Regions from separate parts of the Homo sapiens genome. Here all the other regions are linked to region 3. Evidence: fine-mapped expression QTL. A gene starts in region 3. Each other region holds a variant in brackets. All regions are shown on one strand. Distances are from middle to middle.

The links. PIP is the estimated chance that this variant, and not a neighbour inherited with it, causes the effect.
Region 1: its variant is fine-mapped to the expression of MYL6B in whole blood (TOPMed, PIP above 0.99).
Region 2: its variant is fine-mapped to the expression of MYL6B in blood mononuclear cells (TOPMed, PIP above 0.99). The same link has a PIP of 0.9 or more in adrenal gland, gastroesophageal junction, lung, thyroid, tibial nerve and whole blood.

The regions. Positions count from the first base shown.
Region 1 is chr12:56,320,923-56,329,096 of GRCh38, reverse strand. PAN2 (poly(A) specific ribonuclease subunit PAN2) reads left to right here. Exons shown (of 26, transcript NM_014871.6): 3 at 456-625; 4 at 739-859; 5 at 1,025-1,102; 6 at 1,466-1,733; 7 at 2,138-2,480; 8 at 2,688-2,784; 9 at 3,643-3,762; 10 at 3,969-4,088; 11 at 4,388-4,516; 12 at 4,604-4,803; 13 at 4,912-5,048; 14 at 5,184-5,290; 15 at 5,499-5,597; 16 at 5,713-5,786; 4 more. Among named protein-coding and RNA genes, the nearest start is that of PAN2, 9.0 kb to the left of the region's middle. RefSeq lists a silencer at 7,686-7,886. The variant C/T (reference allele first, on the strand shown) is at 3,255.
Region 2 is chr12:56,217,932-56,226,078 of GRCh38, reverse strand. It overlaps RNF41 (ring finger protein 41), which reads left to right and starts at 4,157. Exons shown (of 7, transcript NM_005785.4): 1 at 4,157-4,319. NABP2 (nucleic acid binding protein 2) reads right to left here and starts at 1,737. Exons shown (of 7, transcript NM_024068.4): 1 at 1,638-1,737; 2 at 1,144-1,245; 3 at 568-706; 4 at 384-455. The coding sequence starts at 1,222. RefSeq lists a silencer at 1,649-1,888 and enhancers at 2,620-2,914, 2,331-3,264, 3,746-3,965, 3,265-4,199, 4,186-4,235. The variant G/A (reference allele first, on the strand shown) is at 4,508.
Region 3 is chr12:56,147,522-56,155,695 of GRCh38, reverse strand. It overlaps MYL6B (myosin light chain 6B), which reads right to left and starts at 3,109. Exons shown (of 8, transcript NM_002475.5): 1 at 3,065-3,109; 2 at 1,604-1,823; 3 at 856-883; 4 at 498-641; 5 at 104-277. The coding sequence starts at 1,777. LOC124902942 reads right to left here and starts at 3,869. Exons shown (of 3, transcript XM_047429954.1): 1 at 3,649-3,869; 2 at 3,065-3,290; 3 at 1,799-1,887. The coding sequence starts at 3,702. The coding sequence ends at 1,853. It overlaps MYL6B-AS1 (MYL6B antisense RNA 1), which reads left to right. Exons shown (of 3, transcript NR_186043.1): 3 at 4,711-4,900. LOC124902943 (a long non-coding RNA gene) reads left to right here and starts at 1,823. Exons shown (of 2, transcript XR_007063328.1): 1 at 1,823-2,567. RefSeq lists an enhancer at 3,956-4,035.

The DNA of each region.
Region 1 (8,174 bases), 170 kb before region 3:
TTCCAAGATCTAAAGATACCAGATACCAAAATTCAAGGATGCCTAAATCCGTTATAGAAAATGATATAGTATTTGCATATAACCTTATGCACATCCTCCCAGATGTGAAACATAAGAAAGCCAGCTGGCCAGTAGAGAATTGGACCATGTCCCTGACCTTCTATATACTGTTCTAACCAAGTGAGCCATTACCTATTCAGCAGGGTCATTGTGAGGACAAAATGAGGTAGAGTTTACCAAAATGCTGTGTAACACATTAAACAAACATAAGACAGTATTATCAGTGTCTTTATCACTAAGATTGACTGGTTCCTAGCCTTTTGCCCCAGTTGCTCCTAGTCACAAAGGCCAAGCAAGAAAGGATCCAAGCTGAGCCATGTTCAGTCCCTGACCTGGCCGTAGGGTGGCCCTTGCCCCTCCACTCTAAGTGTCTCTGTTGTCTTTGTCCTCTATAGGGCCATGCCACTTCATTTTTTGGCCCAGCCTTGGAGCGCTACTCATCCTTTCAAGTCAATGGCAGTGATGATATTCGGCAGATCCAGAGCCTGGAGAATGGTATCCTTTTTCTCACCAAGAACAACCTCAAGTATATGGCCCGTGGGGGCCTCATTATATTTGATTACCTGTAAGTGGCTTCTCAGCTCTGGACTAGGAACGAGGATGCCTCATAGGGTGGGAAGGCTAAGGGATTGGCAGCTTGTAAGGCCTGGGCCCCTTAGCCTTTCCTCTCCCCACCAGGCTGGATGAGAATGAGGATATGCACAGTCTCCTACTGACTGACAGCAGCACTCTACTCGTTGGTGGGCTGCAGAATCACATAATAGAGATTGATCTTAACACTGTCCAGGAGACTCAGAAGGTACAAGCTTGGGGCAAGAAAGACCTATGTGGGGTCTGAGGTTGTTGCGGGGGCAGGGTATGCTTGGGCTGGTAATGTGCCTGAGATGTGGGTGTGACCTTTCTGTTCCCTTGGTCTGTGGGAAAAATCATTCTTCTCACTGGTTTTTCCTGCTTCCCTCTCCAGTATGCAGTAGAGACGCCTGGAGTCACCATCATGAGACAGACAAATCGCTTCTTCTTCTGCGGCCACACGTCTGGCAAGGTGGCCAAGTTCCATTTCTCCTCCCACTGCAGGGCCCTGTTTCACTAGATACCTGATTGCGATCTGCTTTCCCTTAACTCTGGGGTGTAGTTGGATTGGAGGTGAGGGATGAGTGGAGTGAATTCACTTCCTACTCAGTGATGTTCTACTATGAGATTATTTTGCAGCTTGATGTTTTCTATGATAATGAAGTCTCCCTGAAGCCCCTTCTGGCTCTGGGCTTCTCTGTTTGCCTTTTCTGTGCTTTAACTTTCCCTGTCCTAAAGCCCTAGTTCCTTTGGTAGGGACCCCACTGGGTTAGGTAGGTGGCAGGTATTTTTCCTGATAACAGAATTTGCAGATAACTGAATTTTTTTTTTCTAGGTTTCCCTGAGAGACCTCCGTACTTTTAAGGTGGAACATGAGTTTGATGCCTTCTCAGGAAGTCTGTCAGACTTTGATGTGCATGGCAACCTGCTAGCTGCCTGTGGCTTCTCCAGCCGCCTCACTGGCCTGGCCTGCGACCGTTTCCTCAAGGTGTATGATTTGCGCATGATGCGTGCCATCACACCACTTCAAGTACATGTGGATCCTGCCTTCTTGCGCTTCATTCCTACATATACTTCTCGTCTTGCTATCATCTCTCAGTCAGGTATGAAGGGCATATGGGATTGGGTAGGAGGGATCGATGAGCAAAGGAGAGCTAGAACCCGAAGGAGTACTCATCCTGAAACCTCTTTGTTGGGGAAAGAAGTAACCTTTCATCAGGGTCCCAAGGTTTTACTTGGGTTTGGCCAGAGATTAGAGCTTTTATTTTCTTGAATATGAGGAACATGGAAAAAGGTAAAGATAAAGTAGGCAAAATAACTGTAGAATTGCTCTTTGCTGAGTAGCGAACCATCTGTGGTTTATGGAAGGCACGAAGTGGCATTCTGTCTCTAGGCATGGATTTGGGGCCCATCTTGTCCTGAAATCAGGGGAAGAGGATAGGAAGGGCATAAGAATATGGCTCCCTTTCACTTTCTAGGGCTCAGTGGGTTTCTTCCTCCTTTGTAGGGCAGTGCCAATTCTGTGAACCCACAGGCCTGGCCAACCCAGCCGATATCTTTCATGTGAATCCTGTGGGGCCTCTGCTAATGACATTTGATGTGTCAGCCAGCAAGCAGGCTCTGGCCTTTGGGGATTCTGAGGGCTGTGTGCACCTCTGGACTGATTCCCCGGAGCCTTCCTTCAACCCCTACTCCCGTGAGACTGAGTTTGCTTTGCCGTGTCTCGTGGACTCACTGCCTCCTCTGGACTGGAGCCAGGACCTGCTGCCTCTTTCCCTCATCCCTGTCCCACTCACCACTGACACACTTCTCTCTGATTGGCCTGCTGCCAACTCTGCTCCAGCTCCCAGGTTGTACCCTACCTCTGGGCCAAAAGGCGGGAGGGACAGGGAAAGGGCCAAGATACCAGAATTCTCTGCTAGCCCTGTTGTTATTCTACTACTTTCCTGATTTTTGTCTACCTTCAGTATTTTCTTTTTCTCTGGACCCTTGGGGATTGGGGAGTGGACCAGTGTACACCACAACTCTTTAAGTCCTAGAACTATGCTGGATTGTAGGCGAGCACCACCCGTGGATGCAGAGATTCTGCGCACCATGAAGAAGGTGGGCTTCATTGGCTATGCGCCCAATCCCCGCACCAGGCTGCGCAATCAGGTGTGTTCAGAGTGGAGGGTCAGCCCCGACCCCGGCCCACTGAAGTTTCTCCTATCTTTTTCCTTTACTAGTCTTTCTTTTGTTTTTAGATCCTGTTGGTAACCAACCAAATTGATGGAACTATGCTAGGTGTTAGGGAGGATTCAAAGATAGAGAAGCTAGGGTCCTTGCTGTTAGGAAGTTTAGTATTTGGTTGGTGAAGAGAAGACATAGCCATATCAGAAATTACGTTCTGTTGTTAAATGCTGAAGGAATGTCATAAGCATTTAGTGCCAGAGCTGTTTGGAGGAAAAATGTTATTCCAGGCTAAAGTGACCAAGGAAGGTGTAATGAAAGAGCTGGGTATTAAGCTGGAAAGGTGGGATATCAGTTAAGTAGATAGTAACAGAGGAGAATATCCAAGATGAGAGAAGAGTGTTAGTAAAGATCTCAAGAGGCATAAATGCAAAACACATATCTGAGGGGGACTA[C/T]ATGAGTATACCAGTCTGGCCGGAGTAGCTGTTGGTATTGGGATGTAGTGAGCGATTAAAATTAGAAGTGGCCAGATTGCGAAGCTTTGAACACCAGTCTATAATAGAGGAAGTAATACACAGAAAGCAGCATTCTGCAAGGGTTAATTTGGTAGTGGTGTGCTGGACAGAGTGAACATAGGGAGACCAGTGTGGACGCCATCACAGTTGTCCATCTGTGCTGAAGCAGAGTGATGGCAGTGGAAATAGAAAGGAAGCAGCGGATGCTGAGAGTGCTATGAATATAGAAGGTTCAGGACTTGGTGGCTGTTTCAATGTTGGGATAAATGAGTGTGAAGCCAAAGATGACAAGACATCCAACAAGGTTACCTCTTCCTAAAATCCCTAGATACCCTACAGACTCAAGGAGTCAGACAGTGAATTTGACAGCTTCAGCCAGGTCACTGAGTCACCAGTAGGACGAGAAGAGGAACCACATCTCCACATGGTTTCTAAGAAATACCGCAAGGTGCTGGGGGACATCAGGGCCTGTGGGATGTGGGGAAAGGTACCCTGGGAAGGAAGTCATATGAGAAAGGATTGAAGGACTCAGTCAGGAGGCCTTCAACTACCACCCTGGACCCAGGAGGAAGGCTCTAGGAAAGGCTGTGGCTACTGGAAAGATTTGGGGACTCTGAGAATATCCTTGTCTTGCTCAGACAATTTCTACCTTAGGTGACCATCAAATATTCCAAGCTAGGGCTGGAGGACTTTGACTTCAAACACTACAATAAGACCTTGTTTGCTGGATTAGAGCCCCACATTCCCAACGCCTACTGTAACTGCATGATCCAGGTAAGGGTTGGGTATTCCTGTAACTTGAACGTGCCTGCTGCTTTTCTTCTTCCCTATGGCTCTCGACCCTGCTCTTTCCAGGTCTCCTCAGCCGTGTTCTCTTTACCATGGTCTCCTCTACAATTCTTTCTTGCCTCTACAACTTTCAAGTCTCCTCTGAGCTCCACCGGTTTGGTGGACTCACTGCTTCGGTGGACTCCTGCTTCTGGGACATTTTCTCCACCAGCTCACTTAACCTCCATATTTCTCCTCACCCCCAGGCCAGTTTCCTACATCAGTTCTTCTGCTTTTCCCTCCAGGTGCTCTATTTCCTGGAGCCTGTACGCTGTCTAATTCAAAACCACCTTTGCCAGAAGGAGTTCTGTCTGGCATGTGAGCTGGGCTTCCTGTTTCACATGTTGGACCTCTCTCGTGGTGACCCTTGCCAGGTCAGTACTTGGAGACACTTAAAATGGAAGGGGAAGGAAGGTGGACACAAAAGACAAAATAACCCCTTTCCACCAACACATTTCCAGGGCAATAATTTTCTTCGGGCATTCCGTACTATTCCTGAGGCCTCAGCCCTCGGTCTAATCCTGGCTGACTCAGATGAGGCCTCAGGCAAGGGCAATCTGGCCAGGCTCATTCAGAGGTGGAATCGCTTCATTCTCACTCAACTGCATCAAGATATGCAGGAGCTGGAAATACCACAGGCTTATCGAGGTGCTGGAGGCAGGTATGAAATCAGGATAGAAATAGTTAAAGCCATCATGACAGGCCCCTCTGTGATTTAAAAGGTCTCCTAACTTCCTCAATGTGCATATATCATCCTCTCCACTCTTAGCAGCTTTTGCTCATCGGGGGACTCTGTTATTGGGCAGCTCTTCAGCTGTGAGATGGAGAACTGCAGCCTCTGCCGCTGTGGCAGTGAGACCGTGCGAGCCTCATCCACTCTGCTTTTCACACTCTCCTACCCTGATGGTAGCAAAAGTGGTATACCCTTCAGCTCAGTTGGGAAGGCTCCCCAAAATGTCCTGTAATATCAGGGAGAGGGTGTTGGGGACTAACTGTGGGTAGAGGGGAGAACCAGGAGTATAGCATCTAATTTTCCCTCAGATAAAACTGGGAAGAACTATGACTTTGCTCAGGTGCTGAAGCGAAGCATCTGCCTGGACCAGAATACACAGGCCTGGTGTGACACCTGTGAAAAGTACCAGCCCACGGTGAGTGGACTGTTGGACTGGACTAGAGTCCTGGTCCTGCCATGGAGATTCAGCCACTATCCCATGTGGGGCTGGCTCTGTCAGCACTGCCATCCAGGGATCTCTGGTGGAGTGAGGAATCCCAGTTTGAAGACGCAGACCCAGGTCCCTGTCCAGACTCCTTTTCCTGTACATTCCCTGCCATTCCTTGTTTGTTTCTTCCTCTCAGATTCAGACCCGCAACATCCGCCATCTGCCAGATATTCTTGTCATCAATTGTGAGGTGAACAGCTCAAAAGAGGCTGATTTCTGGAGAATGCAGGCTGAGGTAAGGACTCAGACTAGAAACAAGGCTTCCGGAATAATTTTTCATTTTATCCCCCTTCTGACCTCCATATATGATTACATTCCTGAAGAACTGGATGTTTTTCTTCTGTGTTCAGGTTGCCTTCAAGATGGCAGTAAAGAAACACGGTGGGGAAATCTCCAAGAACAAGGAATTTGCTTTGGCTGATTGGTAGGTGCTGTCTTGGGAGTTGTCAAAGGATTGAATTGCCCAGTGGTTCCTCTTATCAAGACCTCTTTCGGAACAAATTTCCAATTCTTCTGACCTGATAGGAAGGAACTAGGGAGTCCAGAGGGTGTGCTGGTGTGTCCCTCCATTGAGGAGTTGAAGAACGTCTGGCTTCCTTTCTCCATTCGCATGAAGATGACCAAAAACAAAGGGCTGGATGTTTGCAATTGGACTGATGGGGATGAGATGCAGGTTGTTGAAAAACCGGGAAGAGGAAAGGGAATAAGGGAGAGAAGGTGGGGCAGAAGGTAAAGGAGGGCAGGGGAAGGTGAAACTTAGCAGAGGGAAAAGGAAGAGAATAAGGCCTAGTATTTACCTGTTAGGGGATTTTCCATAGTCACTCAGTTCAGTGTTGGGGTCCTAGATGGGCTAGGATGGAGATAACCCACCCTGGTCCCCCATCCCCCATACCCCCAACTCCCTGTCCTCTGTCCCCATTCCCCTCCCTTCCCCATCCTTAAACTTAGCTTAGCAGCCTGGGTACCCCCCTCACAGTGGGGCCCAGCCAGGGCAGAGGAGGAGCATGGTGTCTATGTGTATGACCTGATGGCTACTGTGGTACACATCCTGGACTCACGCACAGGGGGCAGCCTGGTGGCTCACATCAAAGTTGGAGAGACCTACCACCAGCGCAAGGAGGTGAGTGAGGTTGTAGAGGGCAGGAACACTCCTGGGATGGCCACAGTGAGTCCCAGATCTGTCCTTGAGTCTGAGACAGAGTGGTCCAGCCATCAATTTGTATCGCCACAGGCTTTCTTTGTATTTCCATAGGGCGTTACTCACCAGCAGTGGTATCTGTTCAATGACTTTCTTATTGAACCTATTGATAAGGTTAGTTGCAACATGTTCTGTTTCTTCTTTCATTTCCCCTTTTCCTAGCATCCTTATCTTTAGGGCTCTATAGAATGCCAGGCAGATTCAACAGGGAGGGAGGAAGGAATCCTCAGGAATAAAAACCATTAGCACTTAAAAATAGCACCTGAAAAAAAACAAAAACTAGCACCTGAGTCCTGGCCTCCGTCTGAAGTGGGGGAAAAGGAAAAGGGTGATATACATTAGCCATAAGTGCTTTTTCTCTTCTATAGCATGAAGCTGTGCAGTTTGACATGAATTGGAAAGTACCTGCAATCCTTTATTATGTCAAACGGAATCTCAATTCCAGATACAACCTGAACAGTAAGTGCTACATAGTAGACCCAAGTGTGTGGACAGTTTAGATTGGGCTTCAGGGTGAGATCTGGGACATTGCTTGCAAGTACTTAGGATTGGTAACCAGTGTTAATATTTCTGGAGATACTAAAGAGATTCCTGCTCATCAGACCTTAAATTTAGAAGTGCGAAATCCAGCCTGAGCAACATAGCAAGATCCCATCTCTTTGAAAAAAAATTTTTTTTTTTTTTTTGAGATGCAGTCTTGCTCTGTCACCCAGGCTGGAGTGCAATTGCGCAATCTCGGCTCACTGCAACCTCTGCCTCCTGGGTTCAAGCGATTCTCCTGCCTCAGCCTCCTGAGTAGCTGGGATTACAGACGCCCACCACCACACCCGGCTAATTTTTTTGTATTTTTAGTAGAGACAGGGTTTCACCATGTTGGTCAGGCTGGCCTCGAACTCCTGACCTCATGATCTGCCCGCCTCAGCCTCCCAAAGTGCTGGGATTACAGGCGTGAGCAACTACACCCAGCCTAAAAAAATTTTTTTTTTTTTTTTAATTAGCCTAGTATAGGCCAGGCACAGTGGCTTATGGCCTGTAATCCCAGCATTTTGGGAGGCTGAGGCGGGCAGATCACTTGAGCTCAAGAGTTCAAAACCAGTTTGGGCAACATGGTGAAACCCTGTCTCTACAAAAAATACAAAAAGTAGCTGGGTATGGTGATGTGCTCCTGTTGTCCCAGCTACTTGGGAGGCTGAGGCAGGAGAATCACTTCAGCCTGGGAGTCAGAGATTTCAGTGAGTCAAGATTGCATCATTGCACTCCAGCCTGGGTGACGAGAGTGAAACCCTGTCTCAAAAAAAAAAAAAAAAATTTAGCTGAGTGTGGTGGCATATACTTGTGGTCCCAGCTATTGGAGAAGCTGAGGCGGGAGGATCACTTGAGCCCAGGAGGTCAAGGCTGCAGTGAGTGAGCCATGATTGCACCAGTGTACTCCAGCCTGGGCAACAGGATGAGACTGCTTTTTTTTTTTTTTTTGGACAGAGTTTCACTCTTGTCACCCAGGCTGGAGTGCAATGGCACAATTTTGGCTCACTGCGACCTCCACCTCCCGGGTTCAAGCAGTTCTCCTGCCTCAGCCTCCCGAGTAGCTGGGACTACAGGCACCTGCCACCATGT
Region 2 (8,147 bases), 70 kb before region 3:
TGTAATCCTAGCACTTTGGGAGGCAGAAGCGGGAGGATCACTTCAGCCCAGGAGTTTGGGACCAGCCTGGGCAACATGGCGAAACCCCATCCCTATAAAAAATACAAAAAAATTAGCTGGGTGTGGTGAAGCACGCCTGTAGTCTCAGCTACTTGGGAGGCTGATGTGGGAGGATCACCTGACCCCGGGAGGTCAAGGCTACAGTGAGCCCAGATCATGCCACTGTACTCCAGCCTGAGCGACAGAGACTGTTTCTCAAAACAAACAAACAAACAAACAGAAAAAGTCCAGAAATGAGGCTTGGACTGCACACCCTATGCTGCCTCCTTGCAAACCCCTTTGCCCTGGTGCTTCTTCATCCCAATCCCCAAGACAGCACTTACTCTCCAATCTTCTGCAGATCACCCCCACGGCCAGTATATAGTGTCAGACAACCTTTGAAAACTGAAGCGTACCTATGGGAGGCAAAAAAAGCAAAATTCAGTACTCAGAAGTGTTATAGGGACTGTTAACCCCACTCTTGATTGTTGTTGCCTTTGGAAGGCCAGAAGTCACCAGCTGACTTACCCTTTGGTGAGCCGGATAATGTCCCCAGGCTGGATCAGATTGCCAACATCGTCCCAGACAGAGATATTGATGCTGCCTGTTTTGTCCGCCACTTTGCAGGTCCGAACCTCATGCCCGTCCTTTGTCTTGGTCACTCGGCCTGAACGGAACAGATAAATCGAGGTGGGAGGATGGTCAAATAAATGGAGTGGTATCTCTCAGAAGGATGAGATGTGGATATTGGTGGAATGAGGGAAAAGGTGTACAAACAGGGGAAAGCCCAAATCCCTGGGGCATAAAGGGTTGGGATTGTGGAAGGGGTGGTGGAGGGTGGAGGTGGGAGTTCAGGGGCCAGCACCATGGAGAGGGCCCTGAGTGGAAAGAGGCCCGCGTCGCACAGGAGGTCTAGATCTGGCAAGAGTTCTATCTACCCTATACCTGACTGCAACTTTCTGTCCCAGGGTCGAAGAGATTGGGAGTGAGGAGTGTCTTGCAGCTTGCCTTGCCATCCCCATAGCAAGTTAAGAACGCAGACAGCGTTCTTCCCCTCCTGCCCCCGACCCCCATCCCGCGAACCCGCCACCCCAGTATAGACACCTGTCTCCAGCACAATGAAGATAAGGTTCAGATTCTTGAGCCCAGGCTTGATATCCTTCACAAAGGTCTCCGTCGTCATGCTGCCTGAGCCTCGGCACCCCACTGGATGGGGAATAGAGGATGAAGGCTCAATGCTTGGATCCTTTGCCCCCATGCTCCACTTCCCAAGGCCTACCTACCCCATTAGGCTGGGGTCAGGCAGCCTCAACCCCTCTAACCCTTCTAAAAGATTAAAAAAGAACATCCCCGGAGGCCTCCAACTTCAGGATCAGAATTTGGGGGTCTCTGGACAGGCTGCTTTGGGGCTGGAAGGCCCCCTGCCGGGATGCTCTTTTAGTCTCAAGCCGCGAAGTGGCGGAGCCGACGTAGACAGGGGTAGGGAACCCGGTGCACAGCCAGGGAGTAGAATCTTACTGGCCAGATCTTCCGGAACCCTCATCCCGACAAGCCGGGACTCGGTCCATCCCCTCCCCTACCCGCAGCCCACCACCCACCCAAGCCAGCCGGCAGGACTGTGCACGCCGCTGAGCAGCCCGCAGGGGGAGCCACAGGCTCCGCTGCCGCCGGATGCTGCCCCGTGGAACGCGGGAGTGCGGACATTCCCGGAAGTTTCCCCCGGCTGGCCTCCTCCGGCCAATCAGCACCGCCCGGGCGCGCCCTGCGTCCCGCCGCCTGCCCTGCCCAGCCAATCGGGATCAGAGACTCGTGCGCCGCGAAGGGGGCGAATTTCAGGTATTAAAGGAACCTTGGAGATAGTTGGCTCTGTAGGGGGAAAAATCCACCACTAGAAGGCGCACAGGGCCCCCAGTTTTCCTTAACTTGGCTAGGGAGAATGCACTTAGGTTCTAAGACGTTTCTTTCCAAAGAGTGACACAATGGGAAAAGGAGCAAGGGCTTCGGAATCTGGCGGACAAAAGTTTGAATCCTGGCTCAATGCTTCACTTCATTTCTCGACTATTTAAACATATGTAATTCCAATTCCGCAAGGCGCGGTGGCTCACGCCTGTAATCCCAGCACGTAGGGAGGCATAGGCTGGAGGATAGCATGAGTCCAGGAGTTCCAGACCTGCCTGGGCAATATAACGAGACCCCATTCTCCACAAAAAGGGAAAAAAAGACAAAAAATATGTAATTCCATCTTACGAGAAAACGGAAGTTATATTTAAAAAAGTGCCTTGCACACAGTAGGCACACACGGTTTCCTCCCTTTTTATTGCTCTAACCGTTATCTTTGTTCCTGATTTGGGGTTCTCATCTTTAATGCACTACCCAGCTTGGTCAAGGTCTCTGGGAAAAGTGGCATTTACACCAGAGACAAAAGGCAGGCTCACCCTTCTTGGAAGAAATGGAACCTGCGACAAAGAGAGAAACATTGTTAGTCCCTTTTTTTTTTTTTTTTGAAACAGGGTCTCGCTGTGTAACCCAGGCTGGAGTGTAGTGGTGCAATCTTGGCTTACTGCAACCTCCCACCACAGCCTCCGTAGTAGCTGGTACTACAGGTTCGCACTACCACCCTCGGCTAATTTCTGTATTTTTTTTGTAGAGACAGTTTCGCCATGTTTCCCAGGCTGGTCTCGGACTCATGACCTCAAGGGATCCGCCCACCTCGTCCTCCCAAAGTGCTAGGATTACAGGCGTGAGCCGCTGCACCTGGCCATACTACTCTTCCCCGCCCCGCCCCACCGCTCCACCCCGGCAAAGGAGTCTTGCTCTGTCGCCCAGGTTGGAGTGCAGTGGCGCGATCTCGGCTCACTGCAATGCAACCTCTGCCTCCCGGGTTCAAGCGATTCTCCTGTCTCAGCCTCCCGAGTAGCTGGGATTACAGGCGCCCGCCACCACGCCCGGCTACTTTTTTTGTATTTTTAGTAGAGACGGGGTTTCACCACGTTGGCCAGCCTGGGCTCAAACTCCTGACCTCGTGATCCACCAGCCTCGGTCTCCCAAAGTGTTGGGATTAAAGGCATGAACCACCGCGCCCGGCCATACTACTCTTATCTTACTTATCTCAGAGTCCCGCTAGAAGACAGCAGAAAGGAGGCCTGAAACTTTAGTTCCTTTTGGGACCTGTCAAATTGTCCACAAAAGGTAGCTAGCTCTGTATTGTTGTGTATAAACAAATTACATAAAGATATGTGTGTATGTGTGTATTAATGTGCATTAGCATTTGCTTAGCCAATGTCCACAATAAATACCATACTATTTAATACCAGATTAGTCTAGGAAGTCATGTGATTGTAATGCCTTGGTTTGCTTAATTAATCCCTTATCTGCTCACGGAGCTCTTTAGGCTCCACATTGACTTCCCTTGGATCCCACGTTCTCTACCGCCCACATCCCCAACACCACGGTGTTGTAAGCTAAGGAAATCAAACCCCAACTCAGGAAGAGGGAAATTTTTTCTCCCTTCCTTCCTCTTAGGTGTTTCAGGGAACTCCACAAGTGTTCGGGGAGCCATCGTGGATACGGCAGGAGAGCGCCTGGGAGAGAGGCAGACAACCCGTTGAGCACCCCAGATCTAAGCTTTGCGGTCAGACTCCCTCACTCCCCACCCCGCGGCCGCCTTGTTAACTGCAATATCCATTCCCATGACAGGAGTCAAGGGGTTACGAAGCTCTGGGATGCTGACCAGGGCTCTGGAAAAGGGAGAGGGGCCGGACCCGCAGCAGGTCACGCTGCAGGCCTGCCTCTCCGCAATGATCTCGCAACAATCTGCGTCAGCTCTAAGACACAAGTCACCTGCACCCCTCCAAAGCGAAGCGTGGCCGGCCAGGCCCACACGTTTTTGCCGGGAAGAACATAGAGTTCTCCCTCCTAAATGGCTACATAGTCCTGGCTGGGACCATATAGACTCTAGACTAGACTTCCTGTCTAGAGTGGAGGCCTGGCCAGCCTTCGTCCCTCCTCGTAGGCAGCTCCTGGCTGCTGGTGTAGGGGCTGAGTTAAACAAAGAGGCGGGGTTTGGTGACGAGCTTCCGCCGGGTTGCGTAGCAGCGGTGGGCGGGGCAAAGGATCCGTCTGAGGCGGCGACGAGTGGTAGGAGTCTTCTTTCCCCTCCTTCCCCTTTCCCTTCCCTTCCCGGGAGAGGCTGGGACCCGGCACCAGGGCAGTACTGTGGCCGCTGCGGCCTCAGCTCCGACTGGGTCAGGTTGCGGAGACTCCAGGCCGCTTCCAGGGCGGTGCGTACTGCGCCTGCGCGATCTTCCACCTAAAAGAGGGTGTGGGAGGGGAGGAGGTGATGTCCCAGGGGTATTGGGGCGGGGGGTTGAAATAACTGGGGTTCAGGAGGAGGGATGGTGGTAGAGATAAAAATGTGAGAAGGGAGCAGCACTGGCGAGGAGTCGGGAGGTGAGAAGGGGGCTCTGGA[G/A]AACGGGTTGTTGGGGAAGGTCCATTGGAATAGGGGAGCTTTGAGAAGTGCGGGAGGGGGCCGGGGCTAGCTGGAGGACCGGCACCTGCAGAACTGGGGGAACAGCGTGGTGTTTAAATGGGCAATGATTGACGGGCCAGAAGGGGAGGAAGGGAGCATTCCGGGGGCCAGCCTGGGCAGGGGCGGTGGAACCTAAACCCCCGCCCTCGAAGCGCCATAGCTTGGCTCCTCTCCCATGCCTTGTCGTTGGCAGCCTTGTCCTCTCATTCCTTCCCCGCTCCTCACCCCCTCCCAGCCCTCCATGAAGGAATCTCACATTCTTCACATCCCTGCGCTTGGTTTGCAGCCTGGCTCTCTGGCAGGGTTCACACACCACACACTGGAAGGCCTTCCCTAACTCAGGACTTTGGGAAATTGGGTAGTGGGGAGGAGGGGGCTAGAGGAAGAGCAGAAAGCCAGGAGGGGTGAAGGCGTTTTGCTTGAGGGATTGACAGACTGCTTCCCCGTTCAGAAACTTCATTTCATTTAATAGCAAGTGGGGCTGTTATTGAGGCCACTGTTCTTGGGGACTGGCCCGTGATAGTGTTATCCCTTTCTATACAGGGGTTTTAGAGTCTGACAATAGGGCAAGAGACTGATAGTGTTGTTGGCTGATAGTTTTGCCCCAAATAAGAATGTAGTGGACTAGTGGTAGGGAATGTGAGTGATGCAATGTTAAGCCGACCGACCTGTGGCTAGCCCTGCCTTCTAGTAAAAAGAAGGAACAAGCTTTTGTCAAGCATTTCCTCTCCGACTCTCAGTACTCTAAATTTATTTTGCATTCTTGTTTTTTTTTTTTTTTGAAACGGAGTCTCACTCTGTCACCCACGCTGGAGTGCAGTGGCACAATCTCGGCTCAGTGCCACCTCTTTCTGGGTTCAAGCGATTCTCCTGCCTCAGCCTCTTGAATAGCTGGGATTACAGGTACCTGCCACCATGCCTGGCTAATTTTTTGTATTTTTAGTTGAGATGGGGTTTCACCATGTTGGCCAGGCTGGTCTCAAACCTCTGACTGTAGCCGGGCGCGGTGGCTCACGCCTGTAATCCTAGCACTTTGGGAGGACGAGGCGGGCGGATTGCCTGAGCTCAAAAGTTCGAGACCAGCCTGGGCAACACAGTGAAACCCCGTCTCTACTAAAAATATAAAAAATTAGCCGGGGCATGGCTGCATGCACCTGTAGTCCCAGCTACTTGGGAAGCTGAGGCAGGAGAATTGCTTGAACCCAGGAGGCAGAGGTTGCAGTGAGCTGAGATTCCACCACTGAACTCCAACCTGGGCAACAGAGTGAGACTCTGTCTCCCCACACCCCCCGCCAAAAAAAACAAAACAAAACCCTGACCTCAGGTGATTGGTCCATCTCGGCTTCCCAAAGTGCTAGGATTACAGGCATGAGCCACTGCACCCAGCCTTATTTTGTATTCTGTTGCTACAAATAATCTTACTTGAGGATAACAGTATTCAGTATCCTTTCATATTTATTTATTTATTTATTTATTTATTTATTTATTTATTTTTGAGACAGGGTCTCACTCTGTCACCCAGGCCGGAGTGCGGTGCTGCGATCTCTGCTCACTGCAACCTCTGCCTCCTCGGCTCAGTTGACCTTCCCCCTTCAGCCTCCTCAGTAGCCGGGACTACAGGCACTCACGCCATCATGCCCGGCTAATTTTTGTATTTTTTGTAGAGACAAGGTTTCACTATGTTGCCCAGGCTGGTCTCAAACTCTTGGACTCAGGTGATCCACTCACTTCGGCCTCCCAAAGTGCTGGGATTACGGGTGTGAGCCACTGCGTCCAGCCTCCTTTCGTATTTATTATTTCATTTGATTTGCAGACAGTATGTATAAGGGGTGCGCGCGTGTATATACACATATATACACACACACACATATATACACCTTATATTACGCCGGGCGCAGTGGCTCACGCCTGTAATCCCAGCACTTTGGGAGGCCAAAGGTGGTGGATCATATGAGGCCAGTTTGAGACCAGCCTGGCCAACATGTTGAAACCCTGTCTCTACTAAAATATAAAAATTGGCTGGGCGCGGTGGCTCACGCCTGTAATCCCAGCACTTTGGGAGGCCGAGGCAGGCAGATCACGAGGTCAGGAGATCAAGATCATCCTGGCTAACGTGGTGAAACCCTGTCTCTACTAAAAATAAAAAAAAAAAATTAGCTGGGCGTCCTGGCGGGCGCCTGTAGTCCCAGCTACTTGGGAGGCTGGGGCAGGAGAATGGTGTGAACCTGGGAGGCGGAACTTGTAGTGAGCCGAGATCGCATCACTGCACTCCAGCCTGGGTGACAGAGCCAGACTCCGTCTCAAAAAAAAAATAAATAAATAAATAAATAAAATAAAAATTAGCCTGGCATGGTGACACATGCCTGTGATCCCAGCTACTCAGGAGGCTGAGGCAGGAGAATTGTTTGAACCTGGGAAGTGGAGGTTGGAGTGAGCTGAGGAGATTGCATCACTGCACTCCATCCTGAGCGACAGAGGAAGACTCCATCTCAAAAAAAAAAAGAAAAATAGGCCAAGCATGGTGGCTCACGCCTATAATCCCAGCACTTTGGGAGGCCGAGGCGGGCGGATCACAAGGTCAGGAGATTGAGACCATCCTGGCCAACATGGTGAAACCCCGTCTCTACTAAAAATACAAAAATTAGCTCAGCATGGTGGCACATGCCTGTAGTCCCAGCTACTTGGGAGGATGAGGCAGGAGAATCGCTTGAACCCGGGAGGCAGAGGTTGCAGTGAGCCAAGATCGTGCCACTGTACTCCAGCCTGGCGACAGAGCAACACTTTGTCTCAAAAAAAAAATAACATATATATATATAATAAATATGTATATATTATATATACCTTATATTAATATATAAGGCAGGTATCATTTTCCCTACTTGACAGTTGAAGCAACAGAAAAACTACAGCAGGGTTACTTGACTTGTTTAAATGTGTAGATTTGGGGGTGGGCGCAGTGGCTGGTGCCTGTAATCCCAGCACTTCGGGAGGCTGAGGTGGGAGGATTGCTGGAGCCTGCCCAGGAGTTCAAGACCAGCCTGGGCAACATGGCAAAACCCCATCTCTACCAAAAATACAAAAATTAGCCAGGCATGGTGGTGTGTGCCTGTGGTCCCAGCTATTTGGGAGACTGAGGTGGGAGGATTGCTGGAGCCTGCTGGGAAGGCGAGGCTGTAGTGAGCTATGATCATGCCACTGTACTCCAGCCTGGGCAATAGAGCAAGACCCTATCTCAAAAAAATAATAATAATTTATGTGGGCCAGGCGCGGTGGCTCACACTTGTAATCCCAGCATTTTGGGAGGCTGAGGCGGGTGGATCACCTGAGGTCAGGAGTTCGAGACCAGCCTGGCCAACATGGTGAAACCCCGTCTCTACTAAAAATACAAAAATTAGCCGGGCATGGTGGTGGGTGCCTGTAATCCTAGCTACTCTGGAGGCTGAGGTAGGAGAATCACTTGAACTCGGGAGGCCAAGGCTTCAGTGAGCCAAGATCGCGCCATTGCACTCTAGCCTAGGTGACAGAGCGAGACTCTATCTCGAAATAATAATAATAATTTATGTGAAAGCACTTTGGAAAC
Region 3 (8,174 bases):
ACAGTAAGCCTCCTGCTAGCTCTGCTTATCTGTCCAGTCTTTCTGGCCCACCCCATCCCCCTCTCCACTCTAAAGGAGTTCTGGTCCCCCTTGCCTGCCTCACCAAGGGTGGTGAGAACATGTCTGAGCTCTGCTCCCATGACTTTGCCGTTCCCCTCCTTGTCAAACACACGAAACCCCTCCAAGTAGTCCTCATATGTGCCTTGGCCTCGGTTCTTGGCCACTGCCTGGAGCATGGGCAGGAAAGTCTCAAAGTCCACACGCCGCGACTTCAGCTCTGGAGGTTGGAGAGAGGTAAAGGAGAGGTCATTGTAGTATTACATAGGACCCAGCTCCCAACCCTACCACAATGCTTTCATCCTATTCAGCATTTAGGATATTTTCCTGCTTCTGTGTTTGACAGTTTTTGAAGTCCTGAGATCCACCTCATTCTTTTTGTTACCAACATCCAACTTTTGAAAACTAAAAACCCAAATTGTTCCCAAGGGTCCCCTCACCATCACTCTTGGGGTTCCCCAGGACCTTGAGCACCTCGGCGTTGGTGGGGTTCTGGCCCAGGGCCCTCATCACGTCCCCACACTGGCTGTACAGGATCTTGCCATCCCCCACTCGGTCAAACAGCTCGAAGGCCTCCTTGAACTCTAAAGTATAAGGAAGGGTCAGTGTAGACACTGACTAGGGTTCCCATCACCCCCAGACAGAAGGGAATTTCAGAAACTATGTGAACAGAACAAGGGAGGAAAAGAGGACTAGTATGGGAGGTTTCAAGGTCAGGACTGGGGTTAGGGGAATAGAAAGAGAATCTGACCAGGGGATTGGGGATGGGACAGTGGCCTTAGATGAGCTTCTCCTCACCCTCCAGCTGGTCCTTGTTAAACTCGATCTGTGGAAGAAAAAAGCAGGTGGGGAGAGATGAGAGTTTATTCAATCCCTCTCCCGCACTCCTCCCAACCAACTGGCAGCCACTTCTGAGGAGGGGCCCAAAGGGACCAGGCTGGAAGCCCAGCCACCTCAGTCCCATTCCCAGCTCTGGGCCTTGGGAGAATCCCAAGAAGAGGAATTACAGTGGGGAGGGTTTCCTGGGAACAGGGTTAATCCCATGCCACCTGTTTCCCTCCCTCCATTGCCCTGAGCCCTGCATCCCACACATAACTGGGGGCTGAACAAAGGCTAAATTTACCCCTGGCCCCCAGCTGTGATTGTCTAACAAGTCTGTCCTCTTCAGCCTCCCCTCCTGGAGTTCAGAGCTGCAGGCCTTTTGAATTGAACCACCAGCCAGGGGCAGGCAACAGCTCTCTTCCCTTCACCTTGAAACTGTTCTCAGAACCCAGATGTTCCCCATCTAAGAGTCCCTGCCTCCAGCAGGGGGTAAGTGAGTGTGTATGTGCTGTACACACATGATTATAGGTTAGAGGGAGAGAACAGCAAAGACAACAGCAGAGTCATAAGACTGGATGCTTCCAAATGGGGGACTAAGGGAAAGCCCCAATCTCATTCCAGGGCTCACTGATTCCCTACCTTCTAGATACCCCCTAATCCCCTAGGCTGTATCCCACCCTCAAACCACCCCCTCCAATTCTATCTTCACTTTCCAGAGACTCACCACCACTTTGGAGAGATCGACTGGAGGCTCCTGGGTTTTCTGAGGGGCCTGGGGGACAGCTGGCTCAGCTTTGGTCTTGGCTGGAGGAGCCCCTGCTGCTGCTGGCTTAGCAGCAGGTTTGGAGATGGAGGGCCCTGCTGGTTTCTTCACGGGAACATCCTTCTTGGGAGGCATGATGTCCGGTGGCCAAAGGACAGTGTGCGGATGGGGGCACCCATCTCTGTTTAAATAGCCAGGGAGTCTGGGATGTCAAGGGGCGGGGGCAGGGGCAGGGAGCCAGTTGGCTGTGGCAAAGATGAGGTAGAGGAGAGATATAACCGCCTGCCCTCACTCCCCTGGCCTCCTATGGTTCAGGACTCCTGCCCCAAGGTCTTCTTCCCTCTGTCCCCTTATCCCCAAAGGCTGACCAGAAAAGAACAATGTTTCCTTTAGGGGTAGGGGAGGAAGCCAGAGACTGCCCAGAATGAGGTAGTTAACCTCCAGGGTGAGGATAGGATGCTTGCCAGTGGCACTGAGATGGGGGTGGTGAGGCAAAGCAGGTGATCCAGCAGCTTTAGTCTTCTTGAAGGGTGGGGTGAGGGGTAGCAGCCAGGGAGGCTTGTGTGAACTGGAACAAGTTAAAGTGTGGTCTGGGAGCAATGACAAAAACAAGAAGCCCATCTGCCCAGCCCCTCCACTCCCTTCTGACCATGGCTTTGTAAAGAGCAGGGGTAGTTAACCTTAGAGTCTAATGATCCCTAATACTTGTAGTTCCTGAGCCCCCACCCAGCCAAGAACTGGAACTATTCACAGTATAAAGGAAGAATAGTCATAAAAACAGGAGTATGACATCCCTCATTGTCTCCTGTGCCCAGTGTTGTTTTAGGGGCAGGAGTGGGGGCAAAGATCAGGTTTAACATCTGCTACCCATTCTTCCATGGAAGAAACCTTCCACAAGCCCACGGTCATTCAAGACAAACAAAAGGTAGGGTGCTTGCTGAACCTGTGGGGACCCTTTGGTGGCACCTGAGGAGAAGGGCAGGCTCTGGGAGACGGCTTAAATTCCCTAATCCAAGAGGATGTGGGCGCTCCTATGGCTCCATGAGTATTCACCCCACAACCAGGGGTATAATAAAAATCCTGACTCAGGGGCCAGGTCACAAACCTTGCCAGGGGCGCTGGGAGAGAGTCCAAGTTGGGGGGCGTTTGGGAGTGGGGAGGGATTGCAGGCTACTTTTGTTCTGGGGTAAATTAGGAAAGGATTTAGGTAGCATTCTGAGGAAGATAGCAGTGATTCCACTTAGGCCCCGGGGTTGATGCTGGGTCTCCCATTCGCAAAACAGCGTCTGAATCTCATGACTGCAAATTGTCCCATTTTTACAAAATACATCACACACACACGACACACACACACACACACACACTCACGCACCCCCACTAAATCTTAAAGAAAATGGCCCTCCTCAGCCCCCAAAAACTCACCCTGCGGGGTCCGTGTCTGGGGCTGGGGAGGGGGCGGGGCATAGCGCGGCCCCCAGCCCTGAAGGGTTAATTCCGGTGGCCGCGGAGCATGCCGGGAGTCGTAGTTCCCCGCGGGCTCACGGGATGCGCCGCGCTCTAGATTGCAGTTGACGCGAGGGCGGTGGCTTCCGGCCCATGGCGGTGGTTGGTGACTCAGTGTCCTTCCAGCGCGCTTTATGTCCCGGAACTGAAAGGCAATGAACAATTTCCAATCCACCCCAACCCTAAAAACCCTGCGGGGCCCCTAGGGTATCCCTCCTACTTAACCCTGGCGGGCTCCTAGTCTCGGGAGGTGGAGGGGGCGGGGCGGCTGTTTTCCTGGACCTACTGCTGAAAGAACTCAGAACCTGGGGAAAGATTGAGGCTGCAGCAGGCAGCGTGGAGGTCAGATAGCTGGAAGCACTTAACGGCCCCGGGGAGAACCGCTGCACTCTCTTTTGCTTCCTCTCGCGGTTTGGTAGAAAAAAAAGAGGCCTCAGAGTAGTTTGTTTTTAATGAGCTGGTTGCTGAAGTAAATGTTAAAATTTGCAATTAAGCCCAGTCACCTGCCCCAGCCTTCTCTGATCGAGGTTTCCATCCTGCGGCAGCATATGCGCCATCCTCCTCGATCTTCACAGGTCTCTGAGCGGAGGGCTGGGCTTTCCAGCCCTACTTTCTGAAACTCTTATGGTCAGCATTGGAGTTCACTGGTTCCCCTAGGCGTTGATCAGAGGATGGGAACCAGCCCGGCCGGGCCCACCTTCACTCACTGGATCAGTAAATACCCTGGCGGTGCACCTGGTGTTGGAAGCTGGTGCTGCACAGGCGTGTGAGGATTAGATCAGAGCAGAAAACTCGGGCGATGGCAGGGTGGTGAGGCACAGGTGAACTTTATGGGCAGTAAGTGAGGTTCACTGGTTGGGGAAAGTTTATTGGAAAGGTAGAAATGAATTGTACGACAGAAATAACGATAATAGTAAGTTAGCAACCATTTCTGGAGGCCGCCATAGATCTCGTACCGGTGAAGGGGCTAAATTATCTCAGAGGGTGCTCAAGTGGATGGGGTTCAGACAGCCTACTCAGATTTAAATCCTGGTTCTACCAGGTCCTAGTTAGTGACCCTCAGCAGGTTTAGTTATCTCTCCTGGGCCTCAGTTCCTCATCTGTAAAATAATGATAATGGTACCTACCTCATAGGGCTCTTCGGAGGATTCGAAGTGTTATTATTGGTAAAATAGGGCCGGGCTTGGTGGCTCACACCTCCCAGCACTTTGGGAGGCGAGGCAGGTGGGTCACCTGAGGTCAGGAGTTCGAGACCAGCCTGGCCAACATGGTGAAACCCTGTCACTACTAAAAATACAAAAAAAAAAAAAAAAAAAAAAAAAAAAAAAAATAGCTGGGCCTGGTGGCGGGCGCCTGTAATCTCAGTTACTTGGGAGGCTGAGGTCGGAGAATCACTTGAACCCGGCAGGTTGCAGTGAGCCGAGATCGCACCACTGCACTCCAGCCTGGGTGACAGAGTGAGACTCCAACTCAAAAAAAAAAAAAAGTGTAAAATAGAATAGGCCTGGCACAGCATAAGTGCTGTATAAGTTTTTGTTAAATAACTTTCCTTTAATCTTCCCAAGGTATGAGGTCGCTGATATTTTCCCCATTTTACATCAATGAAGTAAGGATCAATAGGTGTTGTGAAGAGACGGAGAGGAAGAAGGAATACATTTTTAAGTGGTTATAAGACTGGGAAAGGGCCACATTATAGATGCCTTTGTGTGGCTTTCATTACTTTTGCAGACATTGATTTCAAAATATGGCTCTTGTAATTTTTTTTCTTTCCTTTTCCCATTTTTGGCATTTTGCCAAGTATGAGTGGTTATGGCATCATCTGACTTTCTAGCATTTTCTATAGAGAAGTAGTACAGGGAAAAAACGTTAAGACCCTTGCAGAGATGGGAAGGCTATCCTTCATTTTCTGTGCCATCCCTGTCTTGATCATAAATAACAGGAACTGGACGAAACATGGTCTTAACTGGGCATAGGGTGATTATATATGTGAATTATCTGTGAGAAATGCCTGTCTCTCCTCTCTCCTCTCCCTGCTTAGCATGTGATTTGTATATTCTTATTTTTCTTTGGTTTTGTTTTTTTCTAGAAATGAGGTCTCACTGTGTTACCCAGTCTCAAACTGAGCTCAAGTGATCTTCCCATCTCAGGTGCCTCCCAAAGTGCTGGGATTATAGGTATGACCTACCTTGACTGGCCTGTATATTCTTAGAGATTGCATTTTGTGGGCAGGGAGGGAGGTGAGTCCGAAGCTTGCTTGCCTTCCCTAGGCATGCCGTCCTCCAGGAACCTCCACATGTTCAGCTGTCCAGAGTGGCCCATTAGATTGAAAGAATATGGAAAGCCATTGGGGAGCTGTTCCGCAGTGCACAGGTCTATGCACACTTACCCCCAAAGTCCAAGGAAGCTAAGAGGTTGAGGAAGGAGGCTGACAAATCCAGTTTCTTAGAAATATTTAATAGGAATTTATGAACAGAAGCCATGTCTGTGTCTTGGGTAGTGGTGAGACACGATGGTGGATCCCCAGGACATCATCCCCTGGAGTAAGTCCTGACCCCAGGACTTACCACAGGGAAGGAACCTCTAGGACAATTGAAGTCTACCCTGCAGGGAAAGGCAAGAATACTCAGTAAGCCAGGCTTTATGATCAAGATTGTTTTGATCTAAGGAGAAATTATGGTAAGTACATGCTCTTACACAAAGAACAGTAGATAAAATAGAAATCTTAGAGGCATTCCCAAAACTGGGGTTAATCAGACATGAACATTCCCAGCACTTTGGGAGTCCAAAGTGGGAAGATCACTTGAGCCCAGAAGTTCAAGACCAGCCATGGCAACATAGCAAGAGACCCCAACTCTACAAAAAAAATTCAAAAATTAGCCAGGCATGGTGGCACGTGTGCCTCTGATCCCAGCTATTCAGGAGCCTGAGGTGGGAGGATCACTTGGGCCCAGTAGGTCAAGGCTGCAGTGAGCCATGTTTGTGCCACTGCCCTCCAGCCTGGGCAACAGAGTGAGACCCTGTCCTTAAAAAATTTTTTAAAAAAAGCAGGCCGGGCGTAGTGGCTCATTCCTGTAATCCCAACACTTTGGGAGGCCAAGGAAGGTGGATCACCTGAGGTCAGGAGTTTGAGACCAGCGTGGCCAACATGGTGAAACCCTGTCTCTACTAAAAATACAAAAATTAGCCAGGCGTGGTGGCAGGCGCCTGCAATCTCAGCTACTTGGGAGCCTGAGGCATGAGAATCCCAGGAGGCGGAGGTTGCAGTGAGCTGAGATTGTGCCACTGCACTCCAGCATGGGCAACAGAGGGTGACTCCATCTAAAAAAAAAAAGAGAAAGGCTGAGCGCCGTGGCTCATGCCTGTAATCCCAGCACTTTGGGAGGCCGAGGTGGGCGGATCATCTGAGGTCGGGAGTTCGAGACAAGCCTGACCAACATGGAGAAACCCTGTCTCTACTAAAAATACAAAATTAGCCAGACGTGGTGGTGTATGCCTGTAATCCCAGCTACTCAGGAAGGCTGAAGCAGGAGATTCGCTTGAACCCGGGAGGTGGAGGTTGTGGTGAGCCGAGATCATGCCATTACACTCCAGCCTGGGCAACAAGAGTGAAATTCTGTACCCCCCTAAAAAAAAAAAAAAAAAAAAAAAGAAAGGTGGAATGGGTGGGAAGTGTTATGTGGAAATAGGCTCCCAGAGAGCACAGTGGAAAAGGTTGAGAGGAAGAGAAGCAGAAGGAGATTGTATTAGGGCCCTTTAGCTGCTCTCTTCAAGCATGTTTATTCAGTATACGTTCCTTTTTGTGTTTTGTTTGGGAGACAGGAGTCTTGCTCTGTGGCCCAGGCTGGAGTGCAGTGGTGCATCTTAGCTCACTGCAACCTCCACCTCCTGGTTTCAAGTGATTCTCATGCCTCAGCCTCCCAAGTAGCTGGGATTACAGGTGTGTGCCACCATACCTGGCTAATTTTTTTTTTGTATTGTTAGTAGGGATAAGGTTTTGCCATGTTGGCCAGGGTGGTCTCGAACTCCTGACAGGTGAGCCACCGCCTTGGCCTCCCAAAGTGCTGGAATTATAGGCATGAGCCATTGCGCCCGGCCTCTGTATACATTTCCTTTCCTCTCCCCCGAGAAACAGGGGCTTGCTCTGTTGCCCAGGCTCTGGATGCAGTGGCACAATCATAGCTCACTGCAACCTCAAATTCGTGCGCCACCGTACCTGGCTATTTCTTATATTTAGTTGTTATAGTTTTTGTTTGTTTGTTTGTTTTTTGAGATGGAGTCTCACTCTTGTCACCCAGGCTGGAGTGCAGTGGTGCAATCTTGGCTCACTGCAAGCTCCGCCTCCCGGGTTCATGCCATTCTCCTGCCTCAGCCTCCCAAGAAGCTGGGACTACAGGCGTCCCACACCCAGCTAATTTTTTGTATTTTTTAGTAGAGACAGGGTTTCACTGTGTTAGCCAGGATGGTCTCAATCTCCTGACCTCGTGATCTGCCCGCCTCGGCCTCCCAAAGTGCTGGGATTACAGGTGTGAGCCACCGCGCCCAGCAATTTTTGTCTTTTTAGTACAGATGGGGTTTCATTATGTTGGCCAGGCTGGTCTTGAACTCCTGACCTCGTGATCCGCTGGCCTCTGCCTCCCAAAGTGCTGGGATTATAGTGTTGGAATTACAGGTGTAAACCACGGCGCCTGGCCCCACTTAAGGAAATAATGTGAGATGTATATAAATATCTTCATGGCCAGGTGCAATGGCTCATGTCTGTAATCCCAGCACTTTGGGACGCCGAGGCAGACGGATCACCTGAGGTCAGTTCGAGACCAGCCTGGACAACATGGTGAAACGCCGTCTCTACTGAAAATACAAAAATTAGCCCAGCGTGGTGGCGGGCATTTGTAGTCCCAGCTACTCAGGAGGCTGAGGCAGGAGAATCACTTGCATCCGCAAGGTGGAGGTTGCAGTGAGCCGAGATCACACCATTGCACTCCAGCCTGGGCAACAGAATGAGACTCTGTCTCAAAAAAAAAAAAAAAAA